Linked DNA regions of Homo sapiens: all the other regions are reported to be linked to region 5. The links are microRNA targets in miRTarBase. Many come from high-throughput screens and were not tested one by one. Region 5 holds a microRNA gene; each other region holds the end of a gene's coding sequence.
Evidence for each region. The annotated mature microRNA hsa-miR-5190 reads CCAGUGACUGAGCUGGAGCCA and lies in region 5 at 2,751-2,771, opposite strand. An mRNA with a match to its seed (bases 2 to 7 or 8) in the 3' UTR can be bound and repressed. Matches are read on the target gene's strand: a 7mer-m8 pairs with bases 2 to 8, a 7mer-A1 pairs with bases 2 to 7 and ends in A, and an 8mer does both.

Region 1 (5,078 bases), not on the chromosome of region 5:
TGATGCTAGTTTCAAAGTGTTTTGGAGAAAAAGCAGCATTTTTCTCAAAATTTGGGATCCCTCATCAGAGTGGTCTGTGGGGCCATTTCCCAGAGATGAACTTCCCTGATATAAGTTTATTTATTTCATGATATGTTTGCATATCATCATTATTAATCATTTCTAGGACACATTCCTTGGAGAATCTTATAAAAACCATGGTCCTTTTTCCCAGAAAAATGTATTTACAGCATATAAATAAATTTTGCACATAATTTTAGGCTGCTCATATACCCCATGAAGTCTATCTTTGGTACTCCAGATTAAAAACACTTGGTTTAGAGGGACTTCTGAGGCAAAAGAGGATTTCTTACAAGTCTCTAATTTTCTACTTCATACAGAAACACATTTATGATTTTTCAGTAATAGTTAATTAGTATGATACAAGAGAACAGGGGTGTGGCTAGCCTAAAATAATGAATAACCTATATGCTACGATATTTATATTTTGTCTTTGAAATATATGCCCCCTAATTAGGCCCTGTCCTTCACTAGCTGACAGACCATGGACAAATTAGGCCTTAGGCTGTTATTTCATCTTTATACAATGGGGTTAGATTAGATCAGTGGTTCCCAGCTCTGACTACATTTTATAATTTCCAGAGAACTTAAAAAAAATTTTCCCCTGGGCTCCAGGAAATCTCTGGGGAGAAGCCAGGTGATTTTAACCTATAGTCAAGGTTGAAAACCACTGGATTACATGATGTCTGAGTTCTTTTCTGCCGCTACAATTAACTAGACATATGGGGTTTGGGGTTCATTTTTGTTTTTGTTTTGGGGGTTAAACACATCAACTGAGTTTGAGATGTCAGCTTAACTCTTGGGCTGTTCTGAATGACTGACCTGTTAATCCCTTACCTCAAATAATGTACAATAAATAAAAATGAATTGAGCATTCACTGTACTTTTCTTTCCCTTTAGGAAGCAAAATGAAATTTCTGCAAAAGAAATGAAATCTCTGATTGTCTCCATCCTGAATATACAACAGAAAGTGCCAAAGAAAATATTTTTCTAAGGGTCAGGATCCCATGAAGTATTCTACAAAATTCTTGAAATTTTAAAAGGTTAAAGAGCGAGTCAGGCTGTTAGAGGAGGATTCTCCTGTTGCTGCTGTAGTAATCACTGGAGAATTGTTGGGAATGGTCTGGCACCATGCCATCTTTACTCTGTCTCCATTTTTTTTTTATAGCAGCCTTTTCTATGTGATTCTTGGGCTCATTCTCTGTTTTGTGCTTTGTCTGTGAAAGTAGTTGTGTTTCACAAGGAAAAGCCTTGTTGTTGTTACATTTAAAAAATAGCTCAAAGATGAGAATAATGAGAGAAATGCTGAGTTTAAGGTAGTAGAGAGACATGATGGAAATGGAGAACACTAGCCTTATACACATAATTCTCATCACTGAACTATCATGGCCCCTTTAAACCCATGGGCTGTTTGACCTGGGCTAAGGAATAGACTCATCACATATCTCCATTGTTTTGCCTTATATTATATCTAGGGGAATCTCACTTAGGAGGAAGCCCTACTTGTAATATTATAAGGTACTGTTATTAAGTACCTTATAAAATTAGACATCTTGCAACTCCTCCTCCAAATTATGTGGCATTTGAGTAGTTTGCTTGTGCCTCACATGTCAACATTAAACTTTGTGGAGGCTGGATGCAGTGGCTCACACCTGTAATCTCCACCACTTTGGGAGGCTAAGGCAGGAGTTTGAGGGTGGGAGTTTGAGACTAGCCTGGGCAACATAGCAAGATCCCATCTCTACAAAAACATTTTAAAAATAAGTAAATAAATTTAAACTTTGTGAAATTATAGCTAATATGAAAATGTCCTTTCAAGGGCATGGGAGCCACCTTTATTTTTTAGTGTCCACCATGTGCCATGCACTGTGGTATATGTATGCATATCATCTCAACCAATCCTTAAATCAACCTTATGAGATAGATATTTGCATCTCCATTTTACTAATAAACTGAGGCTGGGTGCTATGGCTCACGTCTGTAATCCCAGCACTATGGGAGTCCAAGGCGAGTGGATCATTTGAGGTCAGGAGTTCGAGACCAGCCTGGCAACATGGTGAAACTCTGTCTCTACTAAAAATACACACAAAAAATTAGCTGGGTGTGGTGGCAGGTGCCTGTAATCCTGGCTGCTCGGGAGGCTGAGCCATGAGAATCGCTTGAGCCCAGGAGGCAGAGGTTGCAGTGAGCCGAGATCGCGCCACTGCATTCCAGCCAGGGTGACAGAGCGAGACTCCATCTCAAAAAAAAGAAAAAAGGAAAAGAAAAAAGAAAAAAACAAATTCAAAGAAGTTAAATACGTTGCCCAAAGTTGTACAACACAGAACTGAAGCCAAGACTTTTATGGACACAGAAAAAGTTGGTTAGTCCTACAGATGGAAATTTCATCTCAGTAGGATTATATAGCTATTTCTTTTATTAATAAAAATTTTCTATTAAGTGTACCAGAGCCACTTTTCAGCTCTGAGGATAAGGAACTTTATAGGTGCCTAGATGAGACTCTTTTTATTCCCCTAGAAATGTTGAAATTTTTGCTCTAATTAAATTAGACTCAAAATATGAACATTCCTTGAACATATACCACTTAGTCATCCAGACCTTTAATATCTAAAGTAGTAGTAGTAGTGATTGGAAAGAGAAAGTTTTCAGTGATGGTGCAGTGTTTTTTTTGTGTGTGTATGTGTGTGTGTGTGTGTTTTGTTTCGGTTTTTTTTTTTTTTTTTTGAGATGGAGTTTCGCTCTTTTTGCCCAGGCTGGAGTGCAATGGTGTGATCTCGGCTCACTGCAACCTCCGCCTCCCGGCTTCAAGCAATTCTCCTGCCTCAGCCTCCTGAGTAGCTGGAATTATAGGCACCCGCCACCACACCTGGCTAATTTTGTACTTTTAGTGGAGACGGGGGTTTCACCATGTTGGCCAGGCTGGTCTCGAACTCCTGACCTCAGGTGATCCACCCACCTTGGCCTCCCAAAGTGCTGGGATTACAGGCATGAGTCACTGCACCCGGCCTGTGTGTGTGTGTGTGTGTGTGTGTGTGTGTTTTCAAACTCATGGGCAAATTCAAGTTCAGATGGTGCACTTTTCATTGATTAATGTTATAGCAAATGTCAGTTTGTTTTCTTCAGTTTCTGCTGATGGTTTTAACTGGCACAGAAAGTATTTATTCAACCTTACAAAACTGTGTAAGTTGTATTGTGATACAGTTTATTGACTTGTACAGTATTGTCATTACAACCCATTCAGGTATGCATGAATCTGAAGCAGAACACCATTTAAGACTGGTGCTGTATAATATAATTCCTACAGATGTGGGTCCAGGGAATAGAACTGAGCCTGTCTTTTTTTTAATGTTAAGCAGGTTACCCCCAGTGGGGCTTCTACTAGACATCTCTCCATTTGGTCTCTTCTTACACTCCAACCCAGCAGGAACAGTTAATAATTGGATGTTTATAAAATGGGGGTAAAAGGGTTTACTGTGATGGATCCTGGCTATCCCTCTAGGAGGAGACCTTTGCTTCAGCAATGGTGTCTTCATCCTCGCAGCCTGAAGCTGCTTCATTTCCTTAGGTCTGTTGTGTTTTCTGTAAAGTGTTAGGAATTCTGGATATTTTTGTAAAAGAATCAAGATTTGTATAAAATGTTGTTTACAGATCTTTTAATGAATAAATACATAAACCCCCCACAGATCCCTTGGAGAATTCTTTAAGATCTTTTATGTCACTTAAATCTATAGCTAGCACATTTACCTAATGGTACTTCGGTAATAAGAATTAGTCTTAGACTGACCAGGCTTAATAACGGAGGTCAACATTTCCAGGCTCTTGGCAGACAAAGGCTGGGTCTAGACTGCACACTGGGCAGGGCATATAGTCTGACAACTTTATTTGGTTTTTACCTGCTTAATCAAAGGGAGGCTGCTTAGTCCAGGAGCCATGCAGAAGAGAGTGCATGGGCAGCAGCTTGAGTGGTTCGGAGGCAGTGAGGAATGCCATTCTATTACCGTTAAGTCCTAAAGGCAAAATGACAGGATTTTTAAGGAACTGAGGTTCCTTTTGATACGCAGACCATAAAGCTTCACAATTTTAATTGGAGACTGGCGCCCAATTCTAGAGTCTCTTTAAAAAATGTACTTACCCAATGCAAAGGTTTTAAGGGCACCGAGGGGGAAGGATAGTTGGGGTACAGCAAGGAAGTAAAAGAGGAATGACCCGGGGTGCAGTGGCTCACGCCTGTATTCCCCACATTTTGGGAGGCCAGGAGTTCGAGGCTAGGCTTGGCAACATAGAAAGGCTCCATCTCTACAAAAAAAATTAAAAATTAGCCAGGCATGGTGGTGTGCACCTCTAGGCCCAGCTACTCGGGAGGCTGAGGTGGAAGGATCGCTTGGGCCCGGGGGGTTGAGGCTGCAGTGAGCTATGATCACGCCACTGCACTCCAACCTGGGCAGCAGAACAAAGACCCTGTGTCTACAATAAAAAAGGAAAAAAGTCTCGCACAGAGGAAGAGAAGATTAAGGGGAGAAGGTGGGAGTAAGCAGAGGTGGGAAACCAGTTTATCTCTCCCCGCCAAATGCTGCAGCCAGTTCCCTCCAAAAGTGTTAAGGGGCTCCCTTTCCAGATATCAATGTTTTGGAGGAAACGAAAAGCCCCAACTTCAAATCGCCGCCATTCGCAGGCAAAAAAAGGGGCAGTAAGCAGAGGACAGGAAATTGAGGCCTTTCGCTGACGCAGACAAGCCAAGACGTTACGTCACGTCCGCCCAAAACAAACCAGCCCGGCAATTTCTAGATACCGGGCGGACCCGCCTTCAAAATTAGCAACTGAGCATGCACTAACGTCAATACGGAGGGAACGTGATTACATCAGTGTCAGGCGCCGGCGTAATTAAATATAACTGAGTTTACGCAGACGCAGAAAACGCAGGCAAACCTGAGGTCCTCAGAATGGCGGGCACAGGTTTGGTGGCTGGAGAGGTTGTGGTGGATGCGCTGCCGTATTTTGATCAAGGTTATGAAGCCCCT
Region 2 (5,090 bases), not on the chromosome of region 5:
ACATCCCCATAACACTCACAGGCCTCTGATGAGGGAATGCCAGAAATGGGTCTGAGGGCAGCAGGTGCTGCGGAGGCACTGTAGGAGCGAGGCCCTGTCCCGGGACACCCATCCTGCTGGGGATTCCCTGGAGCATCTGGTCCTCCTCAGCTGAGGCTGTCAGGTGAAGAATCTCTGGAGCTGGATGTGGACAAATCCATTCACAAGACAAGACACGGGGATGGGCAGTCTCCTTGCTCATTGCACTGTTTTCCCTGGCTGGATTCGTTTGATCACTGCTTCTCTAAAGAGCCCTAAGCTCAGAATTTAGCTGCTTAAACACATGGTCTTGTCTCTCTGATTTTTTTTTCCTTTTTCATCCAAGTAATTTTGTGAAGGGGAAAACATCCTCCAATAACAGCATTTCCCGGGGACTCTCCTCCTGGCATGCCCACTAACCGCACCTGCACCCGGCTCTCTGACTGATGCCGGCTCCACCAGCGGTCCGGTCTGGTCCGGTCCGGTCCAGTGCAGGGGGTCTAACGGTGTGTTTATTTTCTCCTCCTGCTCTGTCTCTACCCAGAGTCTGAAGGAAGGCCTGACGGTGCAAGAACGGTTGAAGCTCTTTGAATCCAGGGACTTGAAGAAAGACTAGGTGTGTCCCATCCAAGTTGAGCACGCGCCTTCCCCAGCTTGCAGCAGCACACCCCAAGCGCTGCTTTTCACCTGTACCTTTGTTTTATTATTATTATTATTATTGCTGTTGTTGTCATCGTTAACTGTGGGCATGGAATGCGTGAGGCTGGCTTCTGGGTTGTCCACACCACTCTCTGCTGTGTTGACTTCCTGTTGTCTTCATCAAAGCTTTTTTCCGTGGTATTCTAAAATTAGGCCAGCAGTGGGGGCTGGGAGGGCATCTGTGTTAGTCCTTTCCTGGCTGTGACCCGCCACACTCACTGTCAGTATTAAGGCCCAGCAGCCTGTTGATAAGCTACCCTGTCTCACCATGTGCTGGTGTGGAAACGGGGCCCAGCCAGCACGCCTCAAGGTAGATGGAATCCCCACTGGTCAGAGAAAAAGCTATGCGGACACTCCAGCTTGGCCTGGGTCACAGCACTGACTCCTCACCCGCTAGTCTGGCTGTTAAGAGGAGAAAGTGCACTGCCTTCCAGCCCAGGAGGAGGACAGCATTTTGTATTTGTTCCACTGATGCAGCTTAGAACCACACCCCTGAGAGTCGTGGCAAACCTTTCACAACCTGGAAAATGTTGAAAGCAACCATTCCTATTTTTGTTTGTTTTTTATTAAATCTTGCACAAAATCCCCGGCCCCTCTCCTTCCTTCCTTCCTTCCTTCCTCCGCTCGTTCCTTTCTTGGTCTCCAGTAACCCTGGTCTTTTCATAACTGCTCGAGATTGTTGACCTGCAGCCCAGGTTTCAGACTCTGATTGCAAAAAACAAATGAATTCCCCCCAGGAATCATTCAAAATGGGGGAAGGTTTGGGGGTTTGGGTTTTTTTTTTACCTTTTGGAAAAGAAACCGTCACATTGCTTTGGAAAAGGTTGAGAGGAGACCCCTGTTAAGTCAAGAAGAAAGTACAGAGGATGTCAGAATCTGATGAGAACAGCACATTAGTGTTTATTGAGACTCCGATCTTAACTCTCATTTAATTAATCTGAGCTCTGAAAACCTATCTTGCAGCATTTATCTTTAAAAGAGCCTGGTTAAAGTAAACCTATACTAACAATTTTGCTTTTTCTAACAGTTTGAGGAAGACCTTTTTAACCACCACAAAACATTCTATGGCAATTCTTGAAAATCTCTTAAATTGGAGTCTATTATGGCCCCATGAAAACCATTAATCCCATTAAGATAGGGAGTATAAACCCCTGGCTGGTGGAACAGGTTCTGCTACTTTAGGAGCAAGGTGGGGTGTGAGTAGATGGTTTTCATGCCAAGAACATGCTTTCACTTTGTATTCATGCTTGTGTTGGTGTGATGGTCTCTGTGGGTGGGTGGATGCTTTGGGCGTTGAAATCTAGAAATCCTGTTGCTCAGTTTCTAGATGAAGTCATGAGCAAGGCCATCAGTGGAGCTCTGGCCCCGCCCCCAATGTGCAGAAGGGCCGGGAGCAAGGCCTGGAGTTTTCATGTGTTTTCAGACCCAGGTTTAGGTGCTCTCTTCTCACTGAAATAACTAAGTGCTCTCCACTGGCATCGAGCCCTTTCCACAAGTTTTTAAGGCTCTTAACCCACACTTTCACTCCTCTGCTACTAGTCTTCAGTGTTGTTAACAGCAAGAGAAAATTGGGTTTGTTTAAAAATCTACTTCTCTGAGGTGGCACAGTTGCGTAGCTGTAGTCCCAGCTACTCAGGAGGCTGAGGTAGTAGGATTGCTTGAGCCCGGGAGGTCGAGGCTGCAATCAGTCATGATCGTGTCACTGCACTCCAGCCTGGGTGACAAAGCAAGGCCCCATATCAGATATAGATATACTTATCAGACCCCCCCTGACCATTTAGATTGGCAGTGCTTTGAGAAATGCACTATGACCTTTCTGTGTCAATGGGAATATACAGAAGGAACATTCGGGACCCCGCTGTCCCCCACAGCCTCATTGTTGTCTCCAGGACACTGCTGGGTCACACGAATGCTCCAGGACAGACAGGGACCTGGAGTGCATCAGGATCTGACCAGATAGGAGTTTTTGCCTCGTGTCTGGGTGCTACGATTTTGTGCCGTTCTCTGAGGTCCACCACCTGCCCTTCCTGGCATGGTTTCCTTCGTGACCATCCCTGCTGCCCCTGGGGGTGGACCCCACTGGCCCTTCTGCAGACAGCTCCCTGCCTTCTGCCCTCCAGGGGGTTCTGGCCAGAGTCCATGCTTGGAGACAGGATCATCTGCCTTCAGCCCTCACAGTGCTTTAAATTAAAGCAAGTTTGCCCATAGGACAAAAGAGCATTTGATTCCCTTTTTTCTGTCACATATCCCTTGAGGCTGGACTTCAGGAATCCTGGAAAATTAATATGAGTGCAGCATGTGAGGGGTCAGAGACAGGCCAGCAGGGCGTCTGCATTCCTCCCTGCCACAGGTCTCTCCCCAGAGGCTGGTTTAGTGTAGGGTATTGCCAGGAAACGGACTGAGGCTGCTTTGCTAAGAGCTCCTGAAAATGCCCTGGGCCTGTCCTGGCGTTTCTGAAGAGCCCTCATACAGGGACAGCCACCATCTGGGTCAAGGAAGTCTGGGTTCCCTGCTGGTGGGCTCCATCCTGCGATGGAGTGAACCAGGCGAGAAAGGATGACGATGTTCTTCATGTTGCACCTGGACATGCCCCAGGAACAGAGACTTGCCCAGGTGGCAACACTGGCACAGATGTTGACGGCTGCCCAACTGGTGCCACACTGAGCAGGGAGCCTTGTGCTGCACAGGGCTGGGCCCTCTCTCCAGTTTCCTTCCTGCAGGCATCCAAATACCCTGGAAGGGATTTAACCCCTGAATTCCAGAGGGAAGAAAGAAGAACAGTGAAGAAGTAGAACTGGTTTCTGTATGGGGAGAGGAAAGTCTTAGGGACAGCTGCAGGCGGGGTCTCAGGCTGCTCCTTGGCACCAGCTACACAGTAGTGAGCTTTCCCAGCTTTACCGATGAGGAAGAAGTTCAAATAGATAGACTTCAGCATTTTAATTATTTTCCTATAAATGTATTTATGTGTAGTATGCTAGCACCAGCCAGTAAGCTGTGCCACACATATGAATGGGAAAGCGAGGCAGTTGTGCTCGTGTGAGTTTCTGCAGGCTTGTGGGTAATTACCTTGTGTGCACGCCTGCACGTGCAGAATAGTCACTTTCTGCTGGTCAGTTTCTTTATCCACCCATGGTGCCCCAGCCCCAGGCAGGTGTGGAGACCAGCATTTCAGAGGACGCGCTGTCCACAGCCTCCCGGGTCTGAGTGGATCATTGGGCAGGGGTGGAGACAGTGCGCTGCCCTCTGAGCTGGAAGCCTGTGCTTCAGGGAGTCATAATGGGCCTGTGCTAAGTGGGTGATGCAGTGGACATCCCAGGGCGACTAGAGGTGGCAGTATCGCGAATTTGCAGGTTTATTGAACAAGAGGTAACATCGGAGAGGATCTTGCCTTCGGATTCAGCAAGTATGAAGGCAGAAGAGCATGGAGAGCAAGGCCCCACAGCCTGCTTAGTGAGTTGGAAGGCCCAGCAAGAACCTGTTTCTGCAGCAGCCACCAGCTCCCATCACCCCTTGACCCTCCAGCTCATGCTGGAGAAGAGGGAATTTTGGCTGTTTAAAGAACACAGTTGTGAATCTCAGAATGTGCCTGAAAGGAATACTGACAGATAAGGCCGGAAACAAAACTGATGGCTTGAAAAACATTTTTATGGAATGTATTTACTATCATTTTGTTTTACTATAGAGGTAGATGGGACTCTTAACTTTTGGGTACATGGAAACATGCTGAAAACTGAACACAATCCTGATCATCACTCCTGCCTGGCTGTCTCCTGGGAGGCTGCCGGGTGCCACGGAGCTGGGACACAGCAGAGCCCGCTAGGTGTTGCAGGGCCCTGGAGGCCAAGGCCACCCTGTGTGGGGTCCCTGTTGGCAGCCAGGTCCCTACACAAACAAGTAATCCTGTTTGGCCTCCTAGGTTTTGCATATGACCTGCAGCCTAATTTGGGGTGTAGGGGAAGCTCTGCTGGCCCCTGCTCCTTTGTATGTTGGGTGACTTTAATGGCTGGCCACATACCCCTTTCTCCCAGCTACTCATTCACTGACTTGGGTAAGTTCTAAGACAGTTCGCACTTAGAAAAGAATGTGACACATCAACATTAACTTTTCCTGAAAAGAAGAGTTTGCCTAACATGGTCCTAAAGAAGCTTGGAATTTATAAGACTTTCCTTTATAAGATATAGTGGGGGTTTTTTTGGGTGGAGGGGGGTTGTTTTTTGTTTTTTGTTTTCAAGACAGAGTCTCGCTCTGTTGTCCAGGCTGGAGTGTAGTGGCATGATCTCGGCTCACTGCAACCTCTGCCTCCCAGGTTCATGCCATTCTCCTGCCTCAGCCTCCCGAGTAGCTGGGACTACAGGTGTCTGCCGCCACGCCTG
Region 3 (5,090 bases), not on the chromosome of region 5:
TCAAGGGTCAATTCTTAACAGTAGAGGAAAATAGGAAAGCGTGTCAGTGGTCCACCAGGAATACTGAGGCATACCTGGGAGACAGAGTAGATGGGATCAGACTGATAGAGAAACCCAAGGAGACAAGACCACAGCTCAAATCACTATAGGCGAGAGATGCTGTCTGAGACAGAGACTTACTCTGTCGCCCAGGCTGGAGTGCAGTGGCATGATCTCGGCTCACTGCACCCTCCGTCTCCCAGGTTCAAGGGATTCTCCCGCCTCACTCCCTGCAGTAACTGGAATTCACAGGCCAGCCACCACTACCGGCTAATTTTTGTATTTTTAGTAGAGACGGGGGTTTCACCCTGTTGGCCAGGCTGGTCTCAAACTCTTGATCTCAAGTGATCTGCCTGCCTCGGCCTCCCGAAGTGCTGATATTACAGTGTGGGTCACCGCGACCGCCCAGGAGACGCTCTTTGTAACAAAGCCTCTGAAAATCTCCAAACCCTGAATCAAAGAAAACACGGAGCTGGAAAGGGCCTTAGGAAAATCATCATGTAAGTTAATTTAAAAGTTCATCAGAAACGTCTGAATCAGCCAGATTCCCCTCCAACACCACAGACAGATTGGCTGGCAGTAGCCACTTTTGCCTCTAAGATGAAACTCTGATAATTATTCATTAAAGAAACTGAAGGCCTGGCGAGGTGGCTCACACTTGTCATCCCAGCACTTTGGGAGGCTGAGGCAGGAAGATTGCCTGAGGCCAGGGGATCCAGAACACCCTGGGCAACATAGTGGATGCCGTCTCTACAAAAAAATACAAAAACCAGCTGAGTGTGGTGGTGTGTGCCTGTAGTCCCAGCTAGATCGGAAGCTGAAGTGGGTGAATCCCTTGAGCCTGGGAGATCGAGGCTGCAGTGAGCAGCCTCGATCACTGCATCACTGCACTCCAGCCTGGGCGACAGACTGCGATACTGTCTCAAAAAAAAAAAACACGAAAAAGAAATGTATCAGGACTTGGTGTAACTTCAGCCCTTCACAGTAATAATGAAGTAGAGAAACACATTTGTGGAGAGGGGACCATGTTCACTCTTTATCCATGATAGACAGATAGTCGGGAGCTTTATATACCCAAGGAACCTAAGGAAAAATGTTCCCTGTCATGACTCACAATCTTCCAGCCACCCTTCCTTGCACCTGTCTTGTGGGCTGGGGGACCCAACTTATGGATCCCATCATCCCAGGGAGAAAGAAAAGTCAAATCCTTCAGTATCTCTTTTAGGGTATTCTCTCCTCTTTGCATGGAGGATAAGGCACTCAATATCTAGTATCGGAATGTTACATTTGTGTAATACAGAACTATATTGGGATAAAATAGAATTTGTTTCTTCTGAGACACAGGTAGAGGCACGTCCACACTGACCTGGGTGGAAGCCATCTCTTCCTGAAGTGCCAGGCAGGGCATGCTCACAGATCTGGGGAACCTCTGTTGCTCCTGGAGCCCCACAACCTCCTTCCTGGCACCCTCTCCCTCTGGTGGCTGTGACAGCCCACACTTGGCCTTGGGTATCCCCTGCTTCTTTGCCTGCCCCTCTTCTGCCCACCCTGCATATCTCTGTCTCCCACTGTCCCTGCTGTGACCATGACCGCCTCTCCCTCCCCGCACTCTCTCTCTCCTAGGGCTCCTTGTCTTGGGAAAATGAACCCACAGCCTCTACCTTGCAACTGGGGACAGAACCCGGAGTTTGTTCAATTCTCCCTCCCTCCACCACACACACCTGTCCTCCTTAATGTTTCTGAAGTCAGTGAGCTCCAAACTCAGCTCCTCCTGCACCTGCCAGCTGTAGGACCTGTGACAAGACACCTACCATCTGTCTGGGACTCTATCTCTCATCTATCATATAGGCATAATGATCATAGTGTTCTCCTTCCAAGGCTGGGGAGAACCAGGAGGCCAAGGTGATGGGGTATGAATGGTCAAAACAGCTCCAATCCTGCCTCCACCTGGGGCTGCTGTTTCAAGTCCGTTGTGTTTCAAGCATTAATGTCTCCATTCACACACAATGGTTTGTTCTAAAACAGACTCCCCTCTGCCCTTCCCTTCCCCACAACTGTTTCACCTCTGCACCGTGCAGTGGTACCTGTGAGAAAGAACTGTCCCATTCCCAAATCATCGTCTCCACCCCAGCCCCCAGGCCCTTGGGTGGTGAGACCCTTGATGGGCAGTCTCATGCTTCTGTCCAGGGGACTTTCCCACCGTTGCTCCCCCGCATGGAGACTAAGTGAACTCTTCTATTCCCTGGCCATCACAGGGTCTACAGTGCACGCATCTTCCCCATCCCTCTGCATTCCCCAGATGATGATTTCATCTGTGTCTCCTACCACATACTCCCAAATGGACCGTCCCAGCCCTAGAACCCGAAAATCGTTCAGAGAGCAAAGGCCAAGATTCCCAACCACCTGCTGCAGAATACTGCTCCAGGACTGAAGTGTATAGTCTCTATCAAAATAAAAACTGGAGGCCAGTTGCGGTGGCTCATGCCTGTAATCCCAACATTTTAGGAGGCCAAGATGGGAGGATCGCTTTGGCCCAGGAGTTCGAGACCAGCCTGGGTAATATAGGGAGACTTTCTTGACAAAACCTGAAAAAATTAGTGGGTCATGATGGTGTGTGCCTGTAGTCACAGCTTCGCTGGAGGCTGAGGTGGGAGAATCGCTTGAGCCCAGGAGATCAAGGCTGCATTGAGCTATGATCATGCCACTGCACTCCAGCTTGGACAGAGTAAGACCCTGTCTCTAGAAAAAAGCAAAAAAAACCCAACAACTGGAAACATCCTCCTCTAGAATGGTGGTCAGGAACATCTGTCTGCCCTGTTCCCTGATGTCTCTTCAGCACCTATAACAGCGCTCAGCACGAGGACGCACTCATTAGGGTTTTGTTGAATAAATGACTCCTTTGACACAGCAATTCCACTTCTAAGAATCTTTCCTAAAGAAATATTCACACAAGTGCACAGAGCTGTGTGCACAATAATGAGAGGAGCAAACAACTGGGGAACGTTTGCAAAGGTTTATTAACTGGCAGTGACTGATAGAGGGGAATCGGATGAGGGGAGTACATGCTGAACAGGAAACAGAGTGAGGGGGGCTTGACCAGGACACATGGGGAAAAGCAGTTGGGAGATGCCTATACTGGTACTTGGTGTGTGTGTGTGTGTGTGTGTGTGTGTGTGTGTGTGTGCGCGCGCGCGCGCATGTGTGTCTGTGTGGCATGTGTGTGTGTTTGTGTAAATGCAGAGGAAAAAATCTGAAATTAAACACTCAGAACTGCCCTCAGTGGTCACATCTGGGAAGAGAGGAGGGTAGTGTTGTTCTATGCAGAGAATACCTGACGATACTTGTTTTCTGAGGTAGGTGCATGGATACACAAACTGAAATATGCATTAAGTATGTCTTGCTCATCAGTGAAAACGCTAATATCTAACAGAATGGCACACTGTAACAAAATACAACAGAAACACTAACATCGAACTCTTGGCACACTAAGAAAAATGACGCTCAACTTTTCACTGTTGTGAACACTTGCTTTCACTTGCTATACACCTGATGACGAGGGATCCGCAGCCATGCCCATGTTCGTGAAAGGTCACCACGTTCTGCTTCTCATCATGGGCATGTGTCATATCCCCGAGGCTGAGGCAAGAAGCGAGAAGGAAAGTAAGTGGCAGTGAGTTCCCACCACATGACAACTCAATCTCAACTCCTCCTGACCTGCAGACCCTGCCCACTCCGATTCTGCCCTACCTCAGGACCTGTACACGCCTTCCATGGTTCCTTGAAGTGAACCATCTGCTCATACCACAGTGACTTCCTCGCCTGGGTTATCAATTCCTAGGCTAGAGGAAGGTGTGGCCCGCATATCAGTGCTGACCTGGGGTTTGGGAACCCACAGCATCCTGGGTAGGGAGGATCCCTGGATATAGAGGGCAGGGAGTAGAAAGAGCATGGTTAGGCAGGCGCAGAGGCTCACGCCTGTAGTCACAACACTTTGGGAGGCGGAGGCAGATGGATCACGAGGTCAGGAGATTGAGACCATTCTGGCTGACATGGCGAAACCCTGTCTCTACTAAAAATACAAGAAAAAAAATTACCCGGTCGTGGTGGCGGGTGCTTGTAGCCCCAGCTACTGGGGAGGCTGAGGCAGGAGAATGGCGTGAACACGGGAGGCGGAGCTTGCAGTGAGCCGAGATCATGCCACTGCACTCCAGCCTGGGGGAACAAAAGGAGACTCCCCCACCCACAAAAAAAAACATGGGAAATTTCATCATTCAGCCTCAATGCTGTACCCTAGAAAATTATGAGAAGGGAATGATTTGGGGAACAACTGATAAGATGGGATACCAGTACCATAACAGAATAGCACATCTGCAAGGATGTGGGAGATGAGCCAAAGGTTCACTTACGGAGTTACTCGTCATCTTCCTGAGGGTCGCTGATCTCTTCATAAATCACCAGTTGCTTTCTCTCACGCACTCTGTGGGTCCAGGCATGTTTCCCCCTTTTGGGTCCTATGATGGAGAAGAGTTGGAAGATGAGGGTTGGGTAGATTGGAGAGGGTTGGGTTGATTGGAGAGTGTTAGGCTCTGTTTTCTCCAAAAAAGGAGATGCCTCCCCACCACCAAGTGCCCATGGGTCTTCTTTATCCAGTTTTTCACATTCTCTGGCTTAGAGAGGCTGAGACCTTAGACCCACACCAATACAGGCCAAATGCAAATTAAAGTTTTAGCTTCTGGCTCCTTCCGTTGTCAGGTTTAGATTCCCAACCTCTTCACTTACGGGAACATTCACCCTTACCTCCTTTCATTCAGCACGTATTTATTAAGGCCACACAGGCGTACCTTGTTTTATTGCACCTCATTTTCATACTGCTTCACAGATGTTGCAATTTTTTTTTTGGAAATTCTCACCAATTTTACACTTTTCCATTATTATTATATCTGTTATGGTGATTTGTGATCAGTGAGCTTTGATATTATTACTGCAATTGTTTTTATTGTTTTTTAGTCTTTTAAAATAATTTCTGTTTTTTATTTTTGTGGGTACACAGT
Region 4 (5,090 bases), not on the chromosome of region 5:
TGGGATTATAGGCATGAGCCACTGCACCCGACCCAGAGGATTTCTTAAAAAGATCTGTTAGCAGGATCTCACTGTGGGAAATTAGGAGCAAAGGCAAGCAGAAAACAGGTTTGTCAACAACTACAGAAACCACAGATTTGTGTTTCTGGCAGAGATAAAGGACCTGAATTTACCCTCCTGCCTGAAACAACTAAAAAACTAAGAGGAACAAAAAAAGAACATTGAACATCAGGCAATAAGGGAAAACGATCACCAAGAGATGAGACACAAATGAGGCAAGCTCCCAAATTGGCCTGGGCCTGCCAGGGTACAAAGCAGAAAGGGAGAAAACAGGCAGAGGCTGGTGGTTGCCCTAAGTTGAGGAAACGGAGTTTCTCTAAGAGTCTAGAGAGAACAAGGCAGCTAGACTTTGCAGGGCAGATATTGGAGGGGAGAGCTGCACAGGGTGTTCCCAGACCAAACTGAGGGTTGGGTTGCTATTTCTTGTGACCCAGTAAGAACATGTAGATGAACTGGGGAGGAAGAGAGTTTTTATTTCTGGAACCAGTTACAGGCAGAAGCCCTGGAAACTATAACCAGACCAACTCAAAATTACAGTTTTCCAGACCTTCTAAGCTATATGTCTATGTGTAAGTGTGCATTCATCTATAGACATTAAGTGGTTAACTTTTTATAATCTACAACTAAGGTCTTGAGTCCTGAAGACCTTCCTCTGGAGCCTCAGTAAACTTAATCTAAATGGGTCCAGGTGCTAGGGTGATTACCCCTGTCTCCTGCTAAATCAGGGAGGTTTGGGGATTCCTTCAGAACCCCAAAAAACTTGTTTAATCCTAAATGGGTCCAGCTAAGAATTCCTTCTTTTTTTTTTTTTTTTTTTTTGTCATGCTTTGAGACCTAGTTCTTGGTGGGTTTTTATTACATTCCAGCCTTTGTATAAGGGCTTTGGTTTTTTTAGCTTTTAGTATTTAACTTAGCCACTCAAGTCAGTACTGAAACAGTTGTTATGGAGGCCTGTGTTAATGAGACCTGGCCTGCCACAAGGTACACTCTGCAGCAGAATACTGATGAATGCACACACATGGTGGGGCAAGTACTCAGGCTGGGGAAAGAACCATCACAAAGGATTAGAGGGGAAATCCTTACAGTTTACAGAGGTAGGAATAATACCTGCTACCACCCACCAGAATGGAAAACCTCTGAATTCACAGGGCATCAGGTACACAAAGGATTTTGATTTAGGAGTCGGAAAAAACACTAGCCCTAACAAGTTGAAAAGAAAGATCCAAAAGTATCCAACTGGTTCTAAGTAACTTAATCCCCTCCCAAGACAAAACTCGAGAATATTTATAGGAACACAAAACATCCAGTACCCAATAAGGTAAAATTCACAATGTCCAACAATATCTTTAGTCTCGTTATGTTGCCCAGGCTGGTCTCAAACTCCTCGACTCGAGAGATCCACCCAACCTCAGCCTCCCAAAGTGTTGGGATTACAGGTGTGCACCTCTGCACCCAAGGTAACATTATTTTCTTAGGGTATGTTAGAACTCACCTGTAAGTCCATCTGGGGCTGATGTTTCTTTGTGGGAAGATTTTAAACTCCTTATGGAACTTGTTTAATCAGCCAAAATACTCCTAAAGAATTTGGTTGAGGGAATTGAGCCTCTTGCCCTAACAATCAGTAGGGCTTACTAATTTACAATGATGACAGTGTGGGACTGGCACAGGAACAAAAGAAATGACAGATGGAACAAACGTCTGAGCCCAGAAACACTCATACTCTATATATAGAGAAAGACCTGTGGGAAATTACTGAAGAAAAGAACTATTCAATAAATGGGGGTTAAATAACTGATTATCTACGGGGTGGGGGAGGAGGGGAGGAATTAGATACCTTACCTCTTGCACACATATACACAATTCTCAGTAAACACCTAAACATGAGAAGCAAAATTGTCAGCAGTGACAACACGCAAATTTTACAGCACAGGCAAATGAATGGCAAATGAACATGAAAAATTACTGATCTAAGGTCAGGAAAGGAGGTCAAGAAAACACAAATTAAAATTATGAGATACTTTTTTATATATGCTACATTAACAATAAAAACATTGCAAAGGGAAGTAATACTCAAGAGAATATCATCATTTTGGAAAATACCTGGCATTATTTTGCAAAACTTGACAAGCCAACAACTCCACTCTTACGCATAAAGTCTCTTGCATATGTGTACCAGGGGACAGTCAAGGATGTTTTGAGTGTACTGTTTCTACCAACAAAAACTAAAAACAAATGTCAACTGATAGGAAAATGAACACTTAAATTGTGGTATACTCACACAGAATACTATAGAGCAAGTAAACCATCCATGCATATAAGCGCAAGAATGAATTTTAAACATAAACTCAAAAAAGCAAGTTGAGTAAGACTTCACATTCAGACACTATATGTAGAAAGCTTCAAAAAATGAAACAGTATGTTTGGAGAACATACATGTGTGATTAAAAAATGGCAAGGAACAATAAAAAATGACATGGGGAAAGAGGTAAGAAAATAGGAAGAACATACATATAGGTAATTGGCAGCTTTCCATGTCTTTAGGTGTGATGAGTTTTTAAGTGTTGTTATTCATCATACCTTACAAGTAATATATAATTTTATCTATATATCAATCATTACACAATATAAAAAAAATCTTTAGAAGATGCCTATCTCCTAATGAGTCAGTGAATGGTGGGAAAAGTCCATTTTCTATAGACTAAGGCAGCACACTTTTTCTGCAAAGGGCCAGAGAGTGAATAAGTTAGGCTTGTGGACCATATACTCTCTGATGCAACTATTCAACTCTCACGTTGAACTAGACAGCAGCCATAGCCAATATGTAAACAAATGGGTACAGCTATGCTCCAATAAAACGTTATTTATGAAAACAGGTGGACATCTGGATTTAGCCCATGGAGGATATTTGCTGACCTCTGGTCAAAGCTAACTGTTTAAAGTTTATGTTCCATTATTTGCCATTCCATTTCTTTTTAAATTTTTATGGGTACATGGTAGGTGTATATATTTATGGGATACATGAGATATTTTGATACAGGTATGCGATTTATAATAATTACATCAGGGTGTATCTACTGCTTCAAGCATTCATTTGTGTTACAAACGTCCCAATTACACTCTTTTATTTTTAAATGTATAAAGTTATTGTTGACTGTAGTCACCCTGTTGGGCTATCAAATACTACAACAAATTCGTTCTAACTATATTTTCGTACCCATTAATCAACCTCACTTCCCTCCCCATCCCTTCAATGCCTCCCAGCCTCTGGTAACCATCATTCTACTCTCTATCTCCTTAAGTTTGATTATTGTAATTTTTAGCTCCCACAAATGAGAATATATGAAGTGCCATTCCATTTCTTAAACAAAGCATAGACTGTCTGTAAGCTATTTACCACTTCACTTTTATTTCCATTTTAACAACTAGTACATTATCCTTGGCCTTAGGAAAAGCCTCCATCAGTTCTATGTGTTCCCAAAATATAAGCTCATGTGATAACGAGGTCAGGCAATTCAGTTTTTTAATTCATAAAGTGCATTCTTCAGACAGCTTCAAATAATGTCTAATTAAGTAGCCACTAGAAGATCAGAAATTATTAGAATGGACTACAGCTATGAAAACTAATACCAATCTCTTAAATTCAATAAACAAAAATTAAATACCATTAGGTATTTAGTTACATAGTTTTTTAGCCTATGTAAGTAAATAGGGCTGTGAATAGTCTGCCTTCTGCCAAAGTGGAAACCATAATGCCTATCCACCATGGATTACGTCTAAGGTTTTCATATTCTTTACCCTGATTATGAATAGAACCTTTCCTTTTTAATAACTTGTCTTTTAATATAAATTCCAATGACCGAATCCCAGAATAAAAATGTTTACCATTAGTAAACTCAATTGTTTATATATATTTTTTTTACAAGTTTTAACCTTTTGGAAAAACAGAAGCAGATATGATAAAATAATTTCTTGAAGTACTTTTTTAATCCAATTAAGCTGATAATAATCACTTCGAATTTTAATACAATACAATCATGTTCCCAAATTTCCTAGGCTCATAACAATACAGTCTCAATACAAAAGACGTAATAATCTATTTTTATTTATTTTAAATCAAAGAGACCATTCCATTTCCTAACAAACAGGTAAGTTACAAAAGTAGTCCATTTTACTTTTCATCAGTCTTTCCCTGTTTTGAACAAGTTTTTTTGAGAATTCTTAGTTTTAGTTTTTGTTTAGCTTACACACTGAAAATTTTGAGAAGCATCTAAAAAAATCCACAATTAGTGCAAAAAGAGGGGACAATACTTTAAGTCATTCCTTCTATAAAAAGAATTAAGGTTACTAAATGCCAATTTTTAAGCAAATATATAGTTTCCTATTTGCCTTCTGAAAGACAGCAGATATAAAAATAGTTCAATATTAGGTTTAACAAGGTTTGAACAACACATGTACTATCAGCTTTATTTTACCTGCAAAAATATTTTAGCTACACTTGGAAAAAAATAAACTTGAGAATATAACTTCACATTTCTAAGGCCAGATGCAAGAATACTTATTCTTTTCCTTTTAAATAGAAGACATGCCATAAAATTTATGAAAGTTAATTTGTAGGAATGAATACATTTAAAAAATACTGGTTAATCTGTGAGGAATTCCACATTTGCCTATTTAACAAAATTTCATCCATTTCATAAGGCTTTGGTATAAGTGATTCCCAGCACTTCATCATTTATCTTTCTTCTTTGCCTCCTTTACTTCCTTCGTCTGCTCATCCTTCTCCCCTCTCACGTTGACATTTGCTGCTCCTTCTTGATTTTCCCTCTGAGAATTATCAACTATCTGATAGTCCTCAAGGAGAGTGTGTCCTGTTTGTGTTGCAGTTTTCTTCACCATTGCTTTGATACCAATGTTGTTAATATTGTAGGCAGTTACGCCAACATTGACCGCAGAATCCACCGCATGGTGGGTAGCTTCTCCTGCATTATATCCGTATCTTTAAAAGAAAGATTAGAGGACATACAATGAAA
Region 5 (5,090 bases):
TCCTTGCTGTCCCTGCTCCGCCCGTGACAGCCACCATGACTGAGCCCACACTGGCCTCCTGGACTCCCACCTTCCGCATTGATATACGCCTTTCTTGGGCGCTCTTCAAGGCTTGGCATAGAAGAATTTGTATCAGTTAAGGGAAGAAGATAAATGCTAATTCTGTAGCTCCCAGATTTCTTTTTTGGAATCATTAAAATCCAAAAAAATTAGTTCCAACTGCTTATTGAACAGTGCCTGTCTCACAGCCCTATGTAGAAGTCACCTCTCTTAGACCAAAGTTGGTATCTCATCCTGAAAACCAGCCCCCTACCTGGCTGTGTGGTCTGGAGAGTCACATTACCATGCACCCTGGCTTGACACCTGGATGCATCCCTGGCCCGTCCCCCTGTGGCCCCCAGTCTAGCGGTCAGCCTGCTCGTCTCAGCTCAGAGTAACTGCATGGACCCCTTGCTTCCCGGCCTTACTCCCACGGCCCTAGTCAGAACTGTTGCACACCTGGCCCCTGGTAACAGTGTTCTTTCTGTCCAGTGTAACCACAGTTGACAACACCACCTGCTTTTTTGAGGCCAGTGAAGAAGTCCACAAGTGCCTGCCTTGGTTCTGCTGTGCTTGCAGCTGTCACGGGATCTGAAGCCAGCCCACTGCTTTCACAGAATGAAGCTCCAGCTCATCCACCCAGGCAAGCAGTGACCCCATGAGGCAGGAGAATAGGATCTGGAGGAAGGGAACCTAAGGCCGATTCACACCGACTTCCTAGAACTAAATCAAAAGGAAAACCCCAACTTTCCATGCCCAAGTAACACAAGGACCAGAGGCTACTCCCTTGCAACCCTGCCCCCTCCCACTTTTTCTGTGTGGCAGATGAAAAATTGAAAGTACCTCTGACTGGACCCCTCCCACAACCAATCAGGCTGGTCAGGGGCCAAGTCTTGCATAGGAGTATAACTTTGTAACTTCACTTTAGCCTCTGATTGGTCACTTTCTGCAACCAATCAGACATTTGCATAGGGTGTAACTTTGTAACTTTGCTTCAGCCTCTGATTGGCCCCTTCCTGCAACCAATCAGACTGATCAAAGGCCACTAGTTAATTTACATAGGGTGTACACCAAGTAACCAATGGGAAACCGCTAGAGAGTCTTTAAAGCGGAGAAAATTCTGTAACCGGGCTCAGGAGCCGCTTGCTAGGGCATGCTACCACCCTGTGGAGTGTACTTTCGTTTTCAATAAATCTCTGCTTTTGTTGCTTTATTCTTTCCTTGCTTTGTTTGTGTGTTTTGTCTGATTATTTGTTCAAGATGCCAAGGACCAGGACACCCTCAACCAGTAACACACACTCTCCTTCTTCAATGACGTTTGTGTTCCTAGAATCCATTTTCCTCAGTCAGGTACGTGTCCCCATCCCCACGTCTTCCTCGCTCTTCTTGACCTTTGTTTACTATGTCCTCCTACTTCCCCCTGGTTCCCCCAGACTCTCAAAACCCATGCAGTCCCCAAGGCTATCGGTCCTCCTCAGGCCCTGGCCACGAAGACCCCTGCCTACCGATCTTCTGTACTAGCCCAGCACGCGTGGACACATTCATCTGCACGACAGACATCATGGGGCACCTTCTGTGAGCAGGCGCTGGGGAGACAAGGCCAGCCCGCCTCAGTTCCCACGGTACTCAAGAGACAGCAAGCCAGGCCACCCCAGCATGGTGAGGTGGGCACTGTGTTCACCAACAATAAAGGCGGACAAAGGTTGGTGCAGTGGGGGCTGCAGAAGGGCCCCGGCCATGCAGACGGCAGCATGGCAGGCTGTTCCAGGCACACAGAGGGCGGCATGGCAGGCAGTTCCAGGCAGAGCTGCCTACTACACCCCAGTGGGCTGATTCATTTGGTGTTGGAAGAAAAGGGGAGAACAATTTTATTTTTATTTTGCTCTTCAGCAAAATCTATAATTTTGTGTTTATCTTAGGAAGTTTATAATAGTATATGTATATAATATTAAAATAATTAAATACACATATAATAGGGATTATCCCCAAAATATTTTACCAAAGAGAGACACATGTTCCAAAAACTCAGGAGGTATGAACTGTCTGCCTTAAATACCCTCATCACTAATTGTCCTTTTTTGGTCTCTCTCAACAGCACTACCTTCTCATCAGATATGAAGAATTTTCTTTTTCTTTACTCAGCACCAAATCTCTTAGAAAATACAAAACAGACACATGGCTTCGTCAGATGACATGGGTCCACTCTAATGGACTGCTCTAAAACTATCAGTTAAGGACGGGTGCATGGCTCATGCCTGTAATCCCAGCACTTTGGGAGGCTGAGGCAGGAGGACTGCTTGTGCCCGGAGTTCCAGCTCAGCCTGGGCAAAACGGTGAGACCCCATCTCTACAAAAAACACAAAAATTAGCCAGGCATGGTGGCGTGTGCCTGTAGTTCCAGCTACTCAGGAGGCTGAGACAGAAGGATCCCTTGAGCCCAGAAGTTCAAAGATGCAGTGAATTGTGATAGCGCCACTGCACTCAAGCCTAGGCAAGAGAGTGAGGCCCTGTCTCTTAAAAAAAACAAAATAAAAGCTATGAATTTAGGAAAATAATGTTCATTAACTACTAGTTTCAAACATGTCCCTATTCTTATAATATACTGTATCCTTGCAAAGCACCTCTCCTTTGTGTTCCTCTTCAAAAGGAAGCTGGAGAAACTGCAGTGAAATGACAATGACCATGGCGTGACGACGTGGGGGCAGTGGCCCTGGCTCCAGCTCAGTCACTGGCTGTGGAACATTAACCATGTGACAGGGCTGGAGCCAGGGTATGACCTTGAGCGGAAACTTAGGGTATGCTTACCTTGAGTTTATGCACCTCTAACGATGAGACTAGGCTACGATTCATATACTTGCTGCTGATGTAAATATCCTGCACGTGCTCCTTAAAGCGCAAGCACTGCCTGAGAAAATGTAGACCTGGAAGGGTTTTCTTCTTTTTATTTAAGCAATATCTTTCTATAGACAAAGCCATATGTATCTCTTCCCTATTGCTGCTATAACAAGCTATACAAACTCAGTGGCTTAAAACACCGAATTTGACCGGGTGCGGTGGCTCACAGCTGTAATCCCAGCACTTTGGGAGGCTGAGGTGGGCAGATTACCTGAGGCCAGGAGTTTGAGACCAGCCTGGCCAACATGGTGAAACCCCATCTCTACAAAAAATACAAAAATGAGCCGGGCGTGGTTGCGGGCACCTATAATTCCAGCTACTTGGGAGACTGAGGCAAGAGAATGGCTTGAATCCAGGAGGTGGAGGTTGCAGTGAGCTGAGATCACACACTGCACTCCAGCCTGGGCGACAGAGTAAGACTCCATCTCAGGAAAACAAAAACAAAAAGAAAAAAAAAACACCAAATGTTATTTTTTAATTTTTCTTTCTTTTTCAGACTAAGTCTCAGTCTGTTACCAGGCTGGAGTGCAGTGGCACAATCATAGCTCACTGTAACCTCAAGCTCCTAGGCTCAAGTGATCCTCCTGCCTCAGCCTCCGGAGTAGCTGGCACCACAAGCATAACCTACCATGCCTGGCTTTTTTTTTTTTTTTTTTTTTTTTTTTTTTTTGGTGTAGAGATGGAGTCTCACTATGTTGCCCAAGCTGGTTTCGAACTCCTGGCCTCAAATGATTCTCCCACCTCGGCCTTCCAAAACCAAAGTGCTGAGATTACAGGCGTGAGCCACCACACCTGGCCTTAAAACACAAATTTGTTACTTTACAGTTCTACAGGTTGGGAATCCAAAACTAATTTCACTGGGTGAAAATCAAGGAGGTGGCAGAGCTGTGTTCCTTCCCAGAGCTCTAGGGGAGAATATTTGTTTGCCTTTTCCATCTTCTAGAAGCTGCCCACATTCCTTGGCTTGAGGCCCCTTCATCATCTGGAAAGCCAGCAATGGCAAGTCAAGTCCTTTTCACATGGCATGGCTCTGATCTCTCTTTGGTGGTCACCTCTGGTTCTGAGCACAGCTGGGAAAGAGTCTCTGTTTTTAGAGGACTCATGTCTCCAGGCCTGCCTGGATGGTCCAGGATAATTTCTGCAACTCAAGGTCCTTAGCCTTAGTCATATCTGTAAAGTCCCTTTTGCTAGTAAGGTAACATATTCACAGGTTCCAGGGATTAAGAAGTGGACACCTTTTGTTGGGGGGCATTATTCTGCCTACCACATCTTTCATGCAATTAGACAAAACAAACAAAACAAAGCAGTGAATGTTTCAAAATAGGCGCAGAGTTGCTCACATGAATAAATAATGCATAATTTTCACCTGGGCACATGCTTCAACCTGGCCCTGGCTCACAAGTCTGGTCAGGCAGGACACCCAGGATGGTGCTTGTGGAAAGATTTACGCACAGAAGACTCATTCCCCTTCCTCAGCCACAGAAGCAAAGTCAGGTGTGTACCACACCTGCTAACACATAGTGCTTCTAAAGCAGCGCGCCGCTCTACTTCTTAGTTGCTAAATTTGTTTTGCGTGAATGGCATTTTGAATCCTCATCACGCAGAGTCAGCAGAGTGGTGTAGACCCCTCCACGGCTCCTGCTCAGCATCAGCAGCAGGCTCCTCATCCGTGCTTCCCCATGCCCAGGCCCTGCGCGTTCTGCAGGCTGTAGTCTTGGTCCAGTTAGGAGACTTGCCTTTACCACACTTTTCAGCAAGAAATGAATTGGCCTACCGAACTCACCATTAGGAAAAGCAAAGAAGTCATGAGAACACGTATGAATGACCACCACCATGGTGCTGGGATACATCATTTTCCAAGACCATTCATGGACCTGTTCACTCCATAGGCAAACACTGATTAAGTATTTGCCACATCCCTGGGGCAGTGAAGGACAGGAAACTCCCTGAGCATGGTCCTGCCTTCATGGAGCTTACCACCACAAAGAGCAAGTCAGACCAGCACTGAAATAAGCACACTGCACAGGGGAGCGGGGGCCCAGGTAGCGAGGCAGGGGGAGCCGCCTTCACAGCAGAGGGCCCTGGGATGCTTGGGGAGGGCCTGTGAACCACGGGGAGAAGTGGTGGTGCCGTGATGTGGATCTATCTACAGGCTT
Region 6 (5,000 bases), not on the chromosome of region 5:
AAGACCAGGCTGTGCAACATGGTGAAACGCCATCTCTACAAAAAATGAAAAAAATTAGCTGGGCATGGTGGTACGCGCCTGTAGTCCCAGCTACTTAGGAGACTGAGGTGTAAGGATCACTTGAGCCTAGGATGTTGGAGGCTGCAGTGAGCCAAGATCACGCCACTGCACTCCAGCCTCAGTGACAGAGTAAGACCGTGTCTCAAAAAAAAAAAAAAACAAAAACAAAAAAAACTCCATTTATAGAAATATTTCACTCAGGGCCACAGTGGAGGAACATTACACAGACCTGTTGCCATTCAAAAATGCGTGTGACTATAGGCCTAAAAGAAAGAATGTGTGAGACTGCCAACTTTTCAGATGGTTATCTTGTTTGTTTGCTGGCTTGAGTATTCAACAAAGTTAATTATTCAATAACAAGTGGAAAATAAATGCTGAGAGCTGCTGTTTGTTTCAGGTAGGGACGTCTGGCTTGGCATCCCTTTTGTAGAGGCTTCCAACCAACACATAAAATTGTGGATTGGGGTTTCTTGCTAGATTATGAATTATAACTAGTGCCTGTGATAGCTAAAGTTAAAATGTAACTTTAGGACTGGAATAAACCAGACCTTTGGTTTTAGTCTGCAGACACACAGCAACTAGAAAAGATGGCGTGACTGCGGATGGGAGTGGGTGGGGGAGTCAACAGAATGCAGTGTGAACTAACCTTTCAGTTCCCTTTAAACCCACGTTTCAGAAATATGCCGAGCGCCAGTCCAGCAAACCCGAAGTACGTGATGGAATGGAACTTGTTCCTCAGCCAGAAGATAGCACAGCCATCTGCCAGTGCCACAGGAAAAAGCCTTCAAGAGAAGAACTTTGAGTCAGCCCAGAATCACACTCCTGTGTATCCCGGCTACACTTTAAGGAAAGATTGAATCTAAGCTGTGAAGGACAGTATAGAAGACTGCACCAAGTGGACTAGTTCTCCCGGTGGCTTTATATATGTAGATGGATATAGCAGTACTGGTTGAGTATCCCTCATCTGAAATGCTTAGGACCAGGAGTGTTTCAGGCTTCAGATTTTTTAAGATTTGGGAATATTTGCATGTACATAATGAGGTATCTTGGGGATGAGATCCAAGTCTAAACACAAAATTCATTTATATTTTATATATACCTTGTTCACATACCCTGAAGGTAATTTTATATAATATTTTTAATAATTTGTGCATGAAACAAAGTTTGTATACATTGAACTGTCAGAAAGCAAAGGTGTCACTATCTTAGCGACCCAAGTGGTGGTGTCAGCACTCAAAAAGTTTTGGATTTTGGGGTATTTCAGATTTTAGATTTTTGTATGAGGAATGTTCAACCTGTATTTGAACAAGCATTACCAAATATCATTGAATATTAATATCTTTTGCGTAAAAACTGCTATTATCAGCATCATAGTTTCTCTAAAAAGAAAACTTGGGGATCATAGCCGATAGAGAGACTTGCTAAAATATAAATCAGCCTCTGCAAAACTGTTTACATATTTATTGGTTTACATATTTTATTGGTTTATTTCTATCCCCTGTTCACTTTTTCTCTTCCACTTCCAATTATGAAGAGAAAATATTTGTTCAGGGTTGTCCCCCCGCCCCCCGTCACTGCATAATTTCTCCTCTTACAAGCTGCTTTTGGCTTTCATTAATAACAGCTTCCTTTTAGAAGGTCTGATAAGGATATTTAAGGAAGAAGAGAATGACTCTGTTATTAAAGGTGGCATGGAGACTGTGGAGGGAATATTTTTTAAAGCACTACTCATATCCTTTAAACTAAATTTTGCCAAAGCCCGAGACAACATTAAGGAGAAATTGTACCTTAAGTTAGTAATTCCAAATCTATCTGAGTTGTATACCCATCAAAGACAATACAGTTATTAACATAGATGAAGGTATGCTATAGGCATCATTCATTATCTCTATATTGAATAGGTGAAAGATAACTGTAGTCAGGTGAAAGGCATTCATTATTTTTAAGCTGAAAAGGGGATCCTTGAAAACACTGAAAACCTCTACAACAATCTTCAGGAAGCCTGCTATCTTGGGATTCACTAATAATAGGCCAAGAACAAAGGCAAGCATCCATTCCTCACTCCACCACTTTTCTATTTCAGTGGGTGTCGTTGCTACGATGAAGACTTTGGAAATTTCCTTTCTCTTTTAGGACAGGGTCAGGATTTAGGACTCATAGCCTGAAAGCTCATTACATACTCCTTGTAACCATCAGTCCAAGGTTCAGTTCACTAAAGTGCATGTTCTAAAACAAGAGCTATCCTCATTCCAAATTTTAAAATATGTACTCTGGCCGGTTGCAGTGGCTCACGCCTGTAATCCCAGCACTTTGGCAGGCCGAGATGGGCGGATCTTTTGAGGTCAGGAGTTTGAGACCAGCCTGGCCAACATGGTGAAACCCCGTCTCTACTAAAAATACAAAAATTAGCCAGGCATGGTGGCATTTGCCTGTAATCCCAGCTACTCGGGAGGCTGAGGCAGGAGAATCACTTGAACCTGGGAGGCAGAGGTTGCAGTGAGCTGAGATTACACCACTGCACTCCAGCCTGGGTGACAGAGTGAGACTCCATCTCAAAAACTGAAAATAAAAATAAAAATATGTATTCTCCTAACTGAAATATTTACTTAATCTGGAAAACAATGTAACTATTTTTAAAGTGGTTACATCTATTCTTGCTGAAGAACAATAAACAGAATTTTTTGACTAAGCATAACCAAATTTCAGAACAGTCTAATCAATGCCAAGTATCCAAGGCAAACTCTAATACCCATCCATTGTGCAAAACCACAAGCACGCAAGTATTAAATAAGAGCAAGCTGTCCTGAGCCCATACCTAATGAATTTGTGTCTTAAATATTGTACATTGTGTTTGAGGCTTGTCAAAACTGGGATTATGGCAAGAAAGGTTGCCTAACTCATACCTTTCTGCCTCAAATTCCAGGTGCTAAAGGCTAATGGCATTTTAAACATCTTACATTTTTAAAAATTTATATTGCCTCTGCCAAACAGGCCTAATAGTTAAAAGCAAGTTGAGACAAACCAGGCAGATTCAGTGTGTGGAACAGGAAGGATGTGCTTTAAAAAAAGGTGGAATCCCTCAAAAAATTCTATAGGGAGACAGCAGCCTTAATCTACATAATTCTTCATCTCGCCAATTCAGCCGCAGCCTTTAAAGAGTTAGTGTTAATGGCTTTCTGGTTTGAAAACAAAAATGCATCTATGTGGTTGAAAGTTTGGGAGGAGATTCACCAATATCTGAGGAGAAGATGGAGTGAAGGGAATTCTTACTTTTTGCTTTATACCTTTCTATAATATTTAGATTTTTTTTTACTGTAAGTATGGATCAAATTGCAAAATAAAGAAAAATGCCAACCTTAGAAAAGACAATAAATGCACAAAAGATATAAACAGGAACAGCAAATATTTATATTTTTTCCATTTTGCTCTTTTTAAATCTATGTTTAGAACTTTATATCTTGGGACTTATGTATATATATACCTTTTAAATAAAATAAATTTTCTAAATAAAAAGTTGAAAAAGATACCTTTTGTTTTTTAAGAAAGAGGTTGTAACCACTTATAGCCCTGGTATTTCTGTAACTGCATTGGTCTAATTTTGATTCTATTATGTCTTCATGAGTAAATGAACCAAAATCACCACTCAGTCCCTAAAGGGCAGAAATCTATAATAACATTAGAAGAAAGAAAAGGCCAGTCACGGTGGCTCACACCTCAGCACTTTGGGAGGCCGAGGCAGGAGGATCACTTGAGCCCAGGAGTTTAAGACTAGCCCTGGCAACATAGTGAGACCCTCAACTTTACAAAAGAAAAAATTTAAAAATTAGCTGGACATGGTGGTGAACACCTGTAGTCCCAACTACTTGGTAGACTGGGGTGGGATGACTGCTTGACCCCAGGAGTTTGAGATTACAGTGAGCTATGATCATGCCACTGCACTCCAGCCTGGACAACAGAGCAAGATCCTGTCTTGAAACCACCTCTGCAAAAATTATAAATGAGAAAATCATTACAGTGAAAGAGATCTGACCTAACCAACTCCATCTTGATTCTAACCTCCAAGCTGTCCCTGTTTATTCCTGGGCATAGGCCAAACTAACCTTGGGAGGAACTTAGTTTATAGTTTAACTTTGAAACAAAGATGGTAACAGCGCTTTCCCAAAAGAAGCCCTCTTCATGCCTGAGGATTAGACTGCCTTTGCAGGACTAACAAATTAGCTGAAACATAGAAATTATGATTTAGGATTCATACATCTGAAGGCTGCCAGACTTTGAGCCTCCTCAAATTGCTCCTGGGGATAACATCACTATTGTAAACCTAAAATCAGTGCTTGAGATATTTTGCAGACCCTGCACTTGATGATTCCACTAGCATCACTCAGATCAATAAACTGGCTTATCTGGTCTTGTGGCCCCGACCCAGGAACTGACTTAGCATAGGAGGACAGCTTCGACTCCCTTTGATTTCATCTCTGACCCAACTAATCAGCAGCTCCCCACTTTCTGATCCCCTACCCACCAAATTGTCCTTAAAAACCACAATCCCTGACATTTCAGGGAGACTGATTCAAGAAATAAAACTGCGGTCTCCCATACTGCCAACTCTGCAAGAATTAAACTCTATTGCAATTCCCCTGTCTTGATAAATTGGCTCTGTCTAGGCAGCAGACAAGGAGAACTCATTGTGTGGTTACAGTCTCAAAAAAAAAAAAAAGAAAAGAAAAGAAAAAATATTTAAGCTTGGCACCATTATTTTTGTTGATGGTGAAAATACTAAAAGGGGCCAGGCATGGTAGCTCACGCCTGTAATCCCAGTACTTTGGGAGGCCGAGGTGGGTGGATCACAAGGTCAGGAGATCGAGACCATCCTGGCTAACACAGTAAAACCCCATCTCTACTAAAAATACAAAAAATTAGCCAGGTATCATGGAGGGCGCCTG

Region 1: miRTarBase lists DENND2C as a target of hsa-miR-5190. Seed matches in the 3' UTR shown: 7mer-A1 at 1,433-1,439 and 7mer-m8 at 3,052-3,058.
Region 2: miRTarBase lists MPRIP as a target of hsa-miR-5190. Seed matches in the 3' UTR shown: 7mer-A1 at 2,164-2,170, 7mer-m8 at 2,416-2,422 and 7mer-A1 at 4,754-4,760.
Region 3: the mRNA of SSX5 is a reported target of hsa-miR-5190. Seed matches in the 3' UTR shown: 7mer-A1 at 3,444-3,450 and 7mer-m8 at 3,065-3,071.
Region 4: the mRNA of SPART is a reported target of hsa-miR-5190. Seed matches in the 3' UTR shown: 7mer-A1 at 2,724-2,730.
Region 6: miRTarBase lists POGLUT3 as a target of hsa-miR-5190. Seed matches in the 3' UTR shown: 7mer-m8 at 1,631-1,637.

The regions. Positions count from the first base shown.
Region 1 is chr1:114,581,514-114,586,591 of GRCh38, reverse strand. DENND2C (DENN domain containing 2C) reads left to right here. Exons shown (of 21, transcript NM_001256404.2): 21 at 961-3,742. The coding sequence ends at 992. BCAS2 (BCAS2 pre-mRNA processing factor) reads left to right here and starts at 4,977. Exons shown (of 7, transcript NM_005872.3): 1 at 4,977-5,078. The coding sequence starts at 5,001. It overlaps LOC105378914 (a long non-coding RNA gene), which reads right to left and starts at 4,749. Exons shown (of 3, transcript XR_947719.4): 1 at 4,193-4,749; 2 at 3,954-4,067.
Region 2 is chr17:17,184,261-17,189,350 of GRCh38, forward strand. It overlaps MPRIP (myosin phosphatase Rho interacting protein), which reads left to right. Exons shown (of 24, transcript NM_001364716.4): 24 at 563-5,090. The coding sequence ends at 634. Among named protein-coding and RNA genes, the nearest start is that of PLD6, 20 kb to the right of the region's middle. RefSeq lists enhancers at 541-1,041, 1,829-2,028, 2,059-2,128.
Region 3 is chrX:48,183,182-48,188,271 of GRCh38, forward strand. It overlaps SSX5 (SSX family member 5), which reads right to left. Exons shown (of 8, transcript NM_175723.2): 7 at 4,446-4,550; 8 at 3,039-3,675. The coding sequence ends at 4,450. Among named protein-coding and RNA genes, the nearest start is that of SSX5, 11 kb to the right of the region's middle.
Region 4 is chr13:36,299,577-36,304,666 of GRCh38, forward strand. It overlaps SPART (spartin), which reads right to left. Exons shown (of 9, transcript NM_015087.5): 9 at 2,062-5,056. The coding sequence ends at 4,789. Among named protein-coding and RNA genes, the nearest start is that of CCDC169-SOHLH2, 4.3 kb to the left of the region's middle.
Region 5 is chr18:13,457,674-13,462,763 of GRCh38, reverse strand. It overlaps MIR5190 (microRNA 5190), which reads right to left and starts at 2,817; the gene lies at 2,738-2,817. All of the region lies in intron 4 of LDLRAD4 (low density lipoprotein receptor class A domain containing 4), which reads right to left. RefSeq lists an enhancer at 860-1,154.
Region 6 is chr11:108,470,689-108,475,688 of GRCh38, reverse strand. POGLUT3 (protein O-glucosyltransferase 3) reads left to right here. Exons shown (of 8, transcript NM_153705.5): 8 at 737-3,573. The coding sequence ends at 862. Among named protein-coding and RNA genes, the nearest start is that of C11orf65, 5.7 kb to the right of the region's middle. RefSeq lists a cis regulatory region at 2,152 and an enhancer at 2,080-2,224.